3 linked regions of the Homo sapiens genome follow. The protein of the gene in region 3 purifies or fractionates together with the protein of the main gene of each other region. This does not show direct contact. Each region holds a gene or a part of one and is shown on either strand. Other genes may lie near its edges. The genes, in order: ZSWIM7, RGP1 and RAB33B.

Region 1 (3,475 bases), on a different chromosome or scaffold from region 3:
AGAGTGAGACTCTGTCTCAGAAAAAAAAAAAAAAAAAAAAAAAAAAAAAAAATATATATATATATATATATATATATATATATATATATATATAAATAAAGTATTCAATCAAGAAACTGCTGTATTAATTTAGGGAAATGATTGATTGATAGTCTCATAAGTCAAATTTTCATCACATAATTTTAAGCTCCATTCTTTTCCATATACAGAAAACTACCCGTGGGGAAGAAACTGGTGAAATGGGATCCCTCCTCTACCAAATTCTGCCTTCTAGAGCTAGATAGATAGATAGGGAATTTTGCTTCTCTCCAAATTTCAAGTTTGGTTAAGTTCTTGGAACTCAAAGTGTGAAAATTTTATGAAGTAAAATTATTTAACTCTGTGTATATTAGGTTAAATAAAAATAAAACTTAAAAAGACAAGCTTAGGGTGCTGCATTGGCTTGTTGCATCTACCTTCTAAACTTTACCCTGAAGGCTGCTGGAAAAAAAGTAAGTTATGCTGAGTCCAAGTTTCCTGAGTAGCAGAAAAGTATTGATAAATTTTATCTGTTGCACTTTTTAACAAAACAAAAAGCATCTGCCAACCACAGAACATTGCAACACCTAGGCCCTGGGCTTTCCCCCAGCATTCATTCACTAGCACCTCATGTTTTGGGGGCACAAGCACAGGGCTTTCTTAGGCTGTAAAATCACCTATATCATCTGTCTGTCCACTGCTTCAACTCCTTCTGCAGTATCCCTGCAACAATATTACATGCTTATGAAATGCTGCAGACAGGGAATTCCTGTCCTTCTAGGATCCTCTTCTGGCTGTGGGCAGCTTTACCATAAGTTCTTGTCTTCTTATGCTGAAATTGATTTCATTTTCATCTTCACGTATTATTGCTTCTTTGCTCTCTCGGTGTCCAACTGAGTCTCATCGCTCTCCCTTCTAATACTCCTTCTGTCATCTATTTTGTCTTTTCTTCTTCAGACTGAAAATCCCTGGTAGTACCTGTAGTTTCCTTCCAGGACACGATTTTTAGTCTGTTCCTTCAATTGCCCTGTTGTAAAGATCAGAAGTGCAGAGTGAAACCAGTTCTTCCCTTGTTCTCGATACTAACTCTCAAACAATACAGTCTACTTAAGCTGTTTTGGCACAAGCATCACAGATATTTGAAGCTTACAGAAACCAGAACCTCTAAGTCTTTTCATACCTGCTACTGTTTAGCCACATCTCTGCTCTGATCTTCTGTTGCTGCTCAATAGTTTCCTGGACCCAAGGAAAAGAACTGACCTACTCGTCGAAACTTCATCTTACTGTTTGGCCCACCATTCCAACCTTTTAAAAATTACTAGTAATTCAGTTAGTTACTTAAGACTAAATAGGGTCAGGCGCAGTGGCTCATGCATGTAATTCCAGCACTTTGGGAGGTCGAGGCGGGCAGACCACTAGGTCAGGAGATGGAGACCATCCTGGCTAACACGGTGAAACCCCATCTCTACTAAAAAAAAAATACAAAAATTTAGCCGGGCATGGTGGCGGGTACCTGTAGTCCCAGCTACTCGGGAGGCTGAGGCAGGAGAATGGCGTGAACCCGGGAGGCGGAGCTTGCAGTGAGCTGAGATCACGCCACTGCACCCCAGCCTGGGCGACAAAGTGAGACTCCATCTCAAAAGAAAAAAAAAAAGACTAAATAATGTGGACACAACATGATATTAGGCTTTATTTGAATTTAAAATCTTGATTCCATCCAGGGACATTTTTTACCGAAGCGTCTCAGAGACTGGCTCAGGGTATTTCTTGACAAGACTGTACAGGGCTTCTCATCATACACAAACCCTCCACAGCCCACGGCTCCAACCCACAGCACCTCCTGCAGTCCTGGAGGGAAAAGGGACAGTAACATGAAGTGTCTGAAGATCCATTTCACCTCTTTTCCATGTGAATCATGACGCTTTCAATGCATTTCTTGACAGGATTCTATTTTGAAAGAATGATGCTCAATCTGTACCTTTTATGCTTCTTGTTTCTTCTCCATCAATAATATGTCAGTCAACTGCTTGTCAGAGACACTTAGCTGCTGACAGGTCCTCATAACCTGACTCAGGTAAACTGCCAAGAGATGCTTGCACTGGAATATAAAACACACACACCTATTAGAAACAGGCAGGGCCAGGGCTGGCCAGTCTAACCAAGATTTCTCATTACCATCTTATTTGGCAGGAGAAGACTAGAGCATACAGATTACGGGGTCTCTAACTGATTGTCTAAAAAGTGCAGATGGGCCGGGCATGGTGGCTCACACCTGTCATCCCAGCACTTTGGGAGGCTGAGGCGGATGGATCACTTGAGATCAGGAGTTCGAGACCAGTCTGGCTGATATGGCAAAACCCTGTCTCCACTAAAAATACAAAAATTAGCTGGGTGTGGCGGTACATGCCTGTAATTCCAGCTACTCAGGAGGCTGAGCCATGAGAATCGCTTGAACCCAGGAGGTGGAGGTTGCAGTGAGCCGAGATCACGCCACTGCACTACAGCCTGGGTGACAGAGCCAGACTGTCTCAAAAAATAAATAAATAAAAACTGCAGATAAAGATGATGAGACAGGAGTATTCTCTTTAGAAATCAGAGTGGACACAGACTTACTTTGCCTGCTGCTTTGGGAAATGGCTTAGATCCATCAGGCACAAGGTATGTAACCCATGGTGAAAACCCAGACTACCTGCACTCCTCACGTTAGTCCTAAGTTATATTTCTTCCTTGCCTTCAGAAAGCTGTCACAGCAATGGTTAACATTCCTTGAGGCACTAGGCTGTGAAGTGCTTCTCATAGATTATCTCACTGAAATCTGACAGCTCCCTAGGAAGACAGGTATTGTAACCACATGCTCATCAGAGTCTCTAGGCTACTCTCTCTTTTTTTTTTTTTTAATTTTAATTTTAATTTTTGTTTTATTTATTTATTTATTTATTTTTATTGATCATTCTTGGGTGTTTCTCACAGAGGGGGATTTGGCAGGGTCATAGGACAATAGTGGAGGGAAGGTCAGCAGATAAACAAGTGAACAAAGGTCTCTGGTTTTCCTAGGCAGAGGACCCTGCGGCCTTCCGCAGTGTTTGTGTCCCTGGGTACTTGAGATTAGGGAGTGGTGATGACTCTTAACGAGCATGCTGCCTTCAAGCATCTGTTTATCAAAGCACATCTTGCACCGCCCTTAATCCATTTAACCCTGAGTGGACACAGCACATGTTTCAGAGAGCACAGGGTTGGGGGTAAGGTCACAGATCAACAGGATCCCAAGGCAGAAGAATTTTTCTTAGTACAGAACAAAATGGAAAGTCTCCCATGTCTACTTCTTTCCACACAGACACAGCAACCATCCAATTTCTCAATCTTTTCCCTACCTTTCCCTGCTTTCTATTCCACAAAACCGCCATTGTCATCATGGCCCGCTCTCAATGAGCTGTTGGGTACACCTCCCAGACGGGGT
Region 2 (3,552 bases), on a different chromosome or scaffold from region 3:
ATGAAATTCACTATACAGTGTGTGGCATAACACCAAGCTTAAATGGTCACTCAGTGGACTTCACAATAATGGCCACTTTATGCTTCTGGATGCAAAACGTTGGGAGAGTTTGAAGTGGATATGAATTTGAGAATGCGTTTTCTTGTAGGAAAAGTAATGGAAACATAAGCATCTTTTTCTAATCACAGGAAAGGTTAAGGCTTTGGTGAAAGCAAGCATAACTGAGTTTAAAAACAGTCTAGAATAAGAAAAGGGTAATAGAAGAGGAAGGAAGGCAGAAGTGGACCATGCAGAATAAACAATCAAGCCTAGCTTTTTTAAAAACCTGAGGTCTTACTAAAGAGAAAGGAGGAAAAACGGAAGATTTCAACATAAGAGTGTTAAAGGTGGAAAAGAGCCAGAAAGGACTGTGGGCTTAAAAAAAAAAAATCAGTGAAGCAGTAGTGGTGTATGTTGGCAAAGAGAAGTGTAGAGTTGAGAGGAGGGAGAGAATTTATAGTAGAGGAAGTCGGTGTGAAGTTTTCCTCTCAAGATGCCCAGCAGAGCAAAGAAGGAATGAAGGCAAAGGCCACTGGGAATAGAGTAGGGCTGGGGCTAAAACAGCACGGGAGAGTGCAACAGGGCCCAAAGTAAGACATTTTCTTTTCTTTTCTTTTTTTTTTCATTAATTGACCCAGATTTGCTTGTTTGGGACCAAAGGCAATGCAGAGTTTAGGGATCTTTATAATTTATAAAGTAATCACCTTTGGCCCAACATAACACAGATCATAAGGATCATGGCAGAATTCGTCTCTGAGACAAGTACAAAATACCATTTTAGAGTTGATTTTAGAAGAGAAGTCAGACTAATAAATTGCTGTGTTGTAGAAATACTATGGTGAATTAAACAGCTTTAACTTTTTCTATCAGCCACAGGATAAATACAGAAACTGTATAATTACATACACATCCACAGAAGATAGTAGCCTCATATGCTAAAATTGTGAGTTGTTTGTCTGTATACTGTAGTCCAAAGCTCCCATTCCAAGAAATGTTTTATTTGGTTCAAAATATAAAGGGCAGGTTAGAGGGCTACACAGAAAAAAGGCTAAAAATAAAGACAGTAAAATGAGGGAGAGGAAAAGTGGAAGTGCAGCACTACTGATCCAGAAAAACTGAGGCATCAGCCACAAAGAATTCAATCAAGTCAGTGAGGGGCAAATGGCACAAAAGCCAAACAAGAAAAAGGCTGAATACCATATTACCAATCTGAGAGCCTCACTTTTGGTTTTAAGTCAAATATTGAATTAGATTGTGCAACTTTTCTATTTTTATTTTTTTATTTTTAAAAATCCACCAAAATTACTTAAATCATTTGACAGAGTCATACAATTTTAAATGACTATAAAAATGTGCAGATCAGTGCCAAATTTTTTGGCAAAGGCTGAATGGCAGACAGTAATCCAAGACGCAGACAACCTTGCTTTTAAGCCATCCGTTACACAGAGACCAGCAGGCTCCCTTCTACCTGTGAGACCAAATAATCCCAAAATGTAACCAAATAATCATAACTCCCCCTACTCCTAAAACCTACCCTTCACCCTTCACTGTCTACGTCAGCCTCTGGACAGACCTGATGCCTGGGGTTTGGCCATTTCCGCCTTCCCACCCTGTGTTGGTCTCCCTCCTCCCTCCTCAGGTCCCTCAGTTCTCCCAGGCCTAACTTGGCGTGCTTCCTTCCTCTCTCACCCCAATCAATCCGGCTCTCCTTCCCTTTCTGGGTTACGCCACCTGCCCGACTCCCGGTTTCCCCCTCGGGGGCCCCTCCTTGCCCTGGGGTCTGCTCTCGGCCCGCCAAGTTCTCCCAGGGGATCCCTCCCCACCTGCCTCCATACAGTCAGACTGTGTTCAGTGTCCGTTTCGCGCCCGTAGCGACACCACGACAGAAGCCCACTAAGTGACCCTCTGCTCCCAGAAACCCTCCTGGCTCCTCCAGACCCTCCGGGGCTCTGGCCCGCAGCTCCCCTCTCCCTCCGGCGGCGGGGGTCGGCTGTGACTCACCAGAGGGCCAGCGGCCGGGGTTGGGGTGGGGGGGCCGGAATGCTCTCACTTCCTCTCCGCGCACCTGCCCCGAGGCTGGAGCGCCGCCCGGCCGGGCCTCCGGCGGATGTTTTCCTTGTTCCCAAGCGTGTAGTGCGCGCCAGCCGCCCCCTCCGGGACCTGCGCGCCAGCCACCGCGCCCCCAGGACCCAGCGGGCCTGGTCCTCACCACTCACCCCCTCCCCAGCAGGCACGCATGCGGGCTCGACCCACACCTCTGCACCGCCCCCCAACTTCTGGGAGAGGACTCCTGGCTCAGCCCAGCCTCTAGCTTTCCAGAAGCCCCTATATGCCTACCTCATCTTCGTTATAGGCGATGAACCTTCACTTCTGTCCCCGTTTCCGCACACGCACCAATCCCCACTGGCGATCCCTTCCCCTTCGGCATCACCCCCACCTTCATGCGCCCCAGCTCCCCACTCACATCCGCCCCCTATTGGGCTGGCTCTAGCTTGCAAGAGCAGAAGGTGGCCCAGGGCCCAGCCTTCCAGGATGTCCCCTGGACCCCCTCTCTGGGAAAGGCGGCAGAGCTACTGGCCACTGACAAGACCTTTGGGCCCTCGTGCTAGACAGGCCTTCGAATCCACCTGCTCCAGCCCAGAGAGCAGGCCCAGGCCGTGCCTCCCACACCGCAGCCGACCTCAGAGCACCCTGCCTCAACTGTGAGTTTTTTCTTGGCAATCCTCTGAAACGGAAAGGGTATCAGTCCTGACTAGGGCGAACGTGAGGTCCATTCTGCATCTCCATCCACCTTAGCTGTCTCCTTGGAAAAGGACAGCAAGGGAGTTTGAGGTGCACTGACACAGTCATTTCTGAACAGTGAAGAGATGACAGGTAGGGTGGTCCCCCTTGAAAAGTCAGCCAGAAGTAGCTGTATCTGATGCACTAGGTGGCAGGGAGTGAGTCTTGGAGTAAATGGGACTGAAAACGTAGAAAAACCAAATAAATGCCAAAGAGACTATCCCTATGGAGAATACCTAGAACATGGGTCTTTGAAGTGTGGAAAAATGAAAGAAATCCAATTTGACCAGGGCCTTTAGTGCCAAAGAGATGGCTAGCAGGAGAGTGGTGAGAAAGGAGAACTGGAGAGTTCACATGAGCGGAAATAGGAAGAAATGGATCCAAATCCAAGTGAGAAAAAGCAGGAGACTTAAAGTTAGCCTGGCAGGATGATGAGAAAAGGACATCTTGTCCTAGGGTAGAGGCGAGGGTGCAGATCTGGGGGAAGAAGGCTTATTGGGAACAGTTTCTCAAACTAGACATTCAGAAGTCAATACAAGGGCCAAAACCAAAATGTTCCTGGAGGTACCTGTTTTTGAAAGAGGTGGGAAAGGTGACATGGATTAGGGGTCTCCATCCCCCAGGCCACAGGCCAGTACCAGTCTGTGGCCTGTTAGGAAGCGGGAGCACAAAGCAGGAGGTGGGCGGCAGGCGAGTGAGCATTACCGCCTGAGCTCCTCCTCCTGGCAGATC
Region 3 (3,652 bases):
TCTGTGTTGATCTTCATTAAAAGTAAATTAATGTTTATAAGTCAAAAAATATTTTATATGAAGTCACCTTATACCCTACCTTAAAACAGAATCAAATTGATACTTTATTTCTTAAAATGTGGTATTGGTGGTTGGAGAGATACCAAACTGGTTCTCTTGATTTGATTTGATTTGCATTGAAATTCAGTGAATGAGAATATGCGCAGTTCAGGTATCCTAAGAATGCTGAAGAATCTTGTGATCCCTTAGCTCAGAAACTTTTGGGCAGTTTCTGGTCTGAAAAAGACTTTGAATTGCTGGGGTTTGGTCCTGGGGCTGGCATGGTGTAAGTAATATACATTTTCACAGACCCAAGCTTTCCTACTATCTGAAGGATCCCAGGAACCAGGTCAGAATTCCTGTTGTTTTTCTAGCCTGATTTCAGAAGCCTATGATTCTCTTCTGTCACTTCTTACGAAGACGAAGAAGGCAGCATTGGTGTGTATATTCAGAGGTGGTGAGAAGAGAATTACTTACTTCTCTGGAATCAGTGGTCAAGATCTCTTGCTTTGGAGACTGTGTGAGGACTCTAAGCAAATTAGTTTAAGCAGAAAGGGAATTTATTTTTTCATATAACTAAAAAGCCTAGAAGTAAATTTCTCTGTCTGCCAGTTCCAACTGCAGCTCTACATGCCCATTCCTAAACTATGGTAGTGACAGGGAGTGTGGGGGTGCGAACCTCTGATTGGTCAGACGTAGGTCACATGCCCTCCCTGGGAGCCAGTGGTTCATGTGAATGGAAAGCAGGGGAGGGCCGATTCCCAAGGAAAATAGGGTGCTATTAATAGAAGGGAGAATGAGGGTTAGGCTGGAGAAAACAACATGCATTCTCTACAGAATCAGGTAGTCCACGTTTAAATTCTGGCCTTAAGACTTACTCGTTTTGTGGCCTTGGGTGAATTACTTAAACCTCAGTTTCCTCATCTGAAGATTGGGTAATTATTACATAGGGTTGCATATATTAAATAAGGGCATGTAAAGGACTTAGCAGAGTTCCTGGAGTATACATGGAATGTGCTAAGCCCCAAATCAATATTAATAGTTTAAGAGTAAATGCTCATTCCTTCAGGAGAGAGATGGTAGTGGGGAAAAAAAACAGGCAGTGAAAGAATAGGGAAAGAGGATGGATAACTAAGATTACTGTTCCAAATTGTGTGTATTTTTTCCTCTAAGGTGATAACTAATGCTTTCTCTCACTGCTTGCTCTCTTCCTTATCACCATTATTATTCTGTAATTAAATCCTTTATTTAAAAAAAATTTTGACCAGGCATGGTGGCTCACGCCTGTCATCGCTTGAACCTGGGAGGCAGAGGTTGCAATGAGCTGACTTCGTGCCACTGCACTCCAGCCTGGGTGACAGAGCAAGCCTCCATCTCAAAAAAAAAAAAATTTCATATATACGTATAATTCCTTTATATAAAACTTCATGAATCTCTAGTTTAAATTCCAATATCAAGTTTTAACAAAAATGGCAACCTAGCTACTGCTAAATACTAATAGTAGATTCTTGTTGTTGATGACAGCTCTTTTTTTTTTTTTTTTTTTTGACGGAGTCTCGCTCTGTCGCCCAGGTTGGAGTGCAGTGGCACAATCTGGGCTCACTGCAAGCTCCGCCTCCCGGGTTCACGCCATTCTCCTGCCTCAGCCTGCCGAGTAGCTGGGACTACAGGTGCCTGCCACCACGCCCGGCTAACTTTTTGTATTTTTAGTAGAGATGGGGTTTCACTGTGTTAGCCAGGATGGTCTCGATCTCCTGACCTCATGATCCGCCTGCCTCGGCCTCCCAAAGTGCTGGGATTACAGGCGTGAGCCACCGCGCCCGGCCATGACAGCTCTTTTGGTAGTTTTATTATCCAAAATGAGAAATGATCTGACTTTAAATTGATTTAATACTCTTTTTGCTTGACCTAAAATGTTAAAGGTTTTAATCCAAATTTTCCATCCCTGATTAACTATTAAATTTCCTTTTCCCCTATTCTTTCAAAGAACACATTTTTATTATTTCATGTAAAAGACCATCTATATAAGAACTACATAAGAGCTTCTGTTAACAATTTAAGTTGTAAAACAACATCATAACTGGTATTAGTGACATCTCAAGAGAACTCTTTGCTTTTTGTATGTGGAGTAGAAATGTGTGTGTCTGGTGTACAGAATCAAATGGCAAATCTTTGAAATAAATTTTAGCTTTCTGGAGTCTCTCTCAACCTCTACTGATTCTGAGTGCTGCCATTTCATGTATTGGTCTGTGTTCACTTAAACCCTGTTAAAATTTTAAAATAAATAAATTTTAGCTTCCTAAGAAGACAAGTAACAAATTTTTGTGATTATTTGAAAGGAATACTGCCTTTAAAATGAAGAATTTGGGCCAGGTGCCATGGCTCATGCATGTAATCTCAGCACTTTGGGAGGCCGATCAGTTGAGCCGAGGAATTCGAGACCAGCCTGGGTAACATGGAGAAATCCCATCTCTACAAAAAACACAAAAATTAACTGGGTGTGGTGACACACTCCTGTAGTCGCAGCTACTCAGGAGGCTGAAGTGGGAGGATTACTTGAGCATGGGAGGTGGAGGTTGCAGTGAGCCAAGATTGTGCCACTGTACCCCAACCTGGCAAGAGTGAGACCCTGTCATAAAAGATAATAATAATTTCTTTTTGAGATGGAGTCTCTGTCGCCCAGGTTGGAGTGCAATGGTGCGATGTCAGCTAACCGCAACCTCTGCCTCCCAGGTTCAAGCCTATTAAAGGCGTGTGCCACCACACCTGGCTAATTTTTCTGTATTTTTAGTAGAGACGGGGTTTCACCATGTTGGCCAGGCTGGTCTTGAACTCCTGACCTCAAGTGATCCACCCACCTCGGCCTCCCAAAGTGCTGTGATGACAGGTGTGAGCCACCACCCCTGGCCAAGTATATATTATGTTATCTTTATAATGTTTAAAATGGCAATAAGATTGCTGTGAGCACATATTAGCCATTTTTCCTAAGATATTTAAGTATTAAATTGGGAAAAATTTCTCTGAAAATATTTCCTAATTTAACATTTACCAGATGAAAGCGTCTCACTTCCTTGGGTCCAAAAGTATCAGTTTCTCTTCTTTTTTAAACATCATGAACCATTCCACTCATAGCTAAGCCTCAAGAGTTTTCTAGGCTTTGCTTTTCGCCTAGTGTCTGTCTGTCTGTCTCCTTCAAAGTTTTCTCTAGCCTTTTATGGTCAACAGTTTTTAATCAGTTGTCCTGTCGTGTATTGGCTGGGTCTCTCACTGCTCCTTTCCTGTCTCCTTGCCTTCTCATCTCAGTGTGCAGGCCTGGAAGGCAGCAGGCAGCAGTAGCCCTAAGCCTTCCCATCATTTAGTTATTCCATGAGAGAAATTTTGAAGCTTCTTTTTAGATATTCCTTTGTAAATGCCTCATTATTAGTTACGTTTATGGCTCTACAGTAAAGTGTAGAGTTATTTCAGGCTGGGCATGATGGCTTTTGCCTATAATCCCAAAGCTTTGGAAGGCCAAGGTGGGAGGATCACTTGACCCCAGGAGTTTGGGACCAGCCTGGGCAACATAGTGTGACCACCCCCCCACTGTCTCTACAAAAAGTAAAAACTTAGCTGG

Evidence for each region.
Region 1: the proteins of RAB33B (region 3) and ZSWIM7 purify together in Homo sapiens (affinity purification with mass spectrometry; one large-scale study listed by BioGRID and IntAct). This does not show direct contact.
Region 2: the proteins of RAB33B (region 3) and RGP1 purify together in Homo sapiens (co-immunoprecipitation; one study listed by IntAct). This does not show direct contact.

What each region holds. Positions count from the first base shown.
Region 1 is NC_000017.11:15,976,048-15,979,522, forward strand, and holds the end of ZSWIM7 (zinc finger SWIM domain-containing protein 7), read right to left. Parts: intron 2,117-3,475; coding exon 2,000-2,116; 3' UTR 513-1,999; downstream 1-512. UniProt on the Homo sapiens protein: Involved in early stages of the homologous recombination repair (HRR) pathway of double-stranded DNA breaks arising during DNA replication or induced by DNA-damaging agents. Required for meiotic progression, hence for fertility.
Region 2 is NC_000009.12:35,755,686-35,759,237, reverse strand, and holds the end of RGP1 (RAB6A-GEF complex partner protein 2), read right to left. Parts: 3' UTR 653-3,552; downstream 1-652. UniProt on the Homo sapiens protein: The RIC1-RGP1 complex acts as a guanine nucleotide exchange factor (GEF), which activates RAB6A by exchanging bound GDP for free GTP and may thereby required for efficient fusion of endosome-derived vesicles with the Golgi compartment.
Region 3 is NC_000004.12:139,460,488-139,464,139, forward strand, and holds part of RAB33B (ras-related protein Rab-33B), read left to right. Parts: intron 1-3,652. UniProt on the Homo sapiens protein: The small GTPases Rab are key regulators of intracellular membrane trafficking, from the formation of transport vesicles to their fusion with membranes.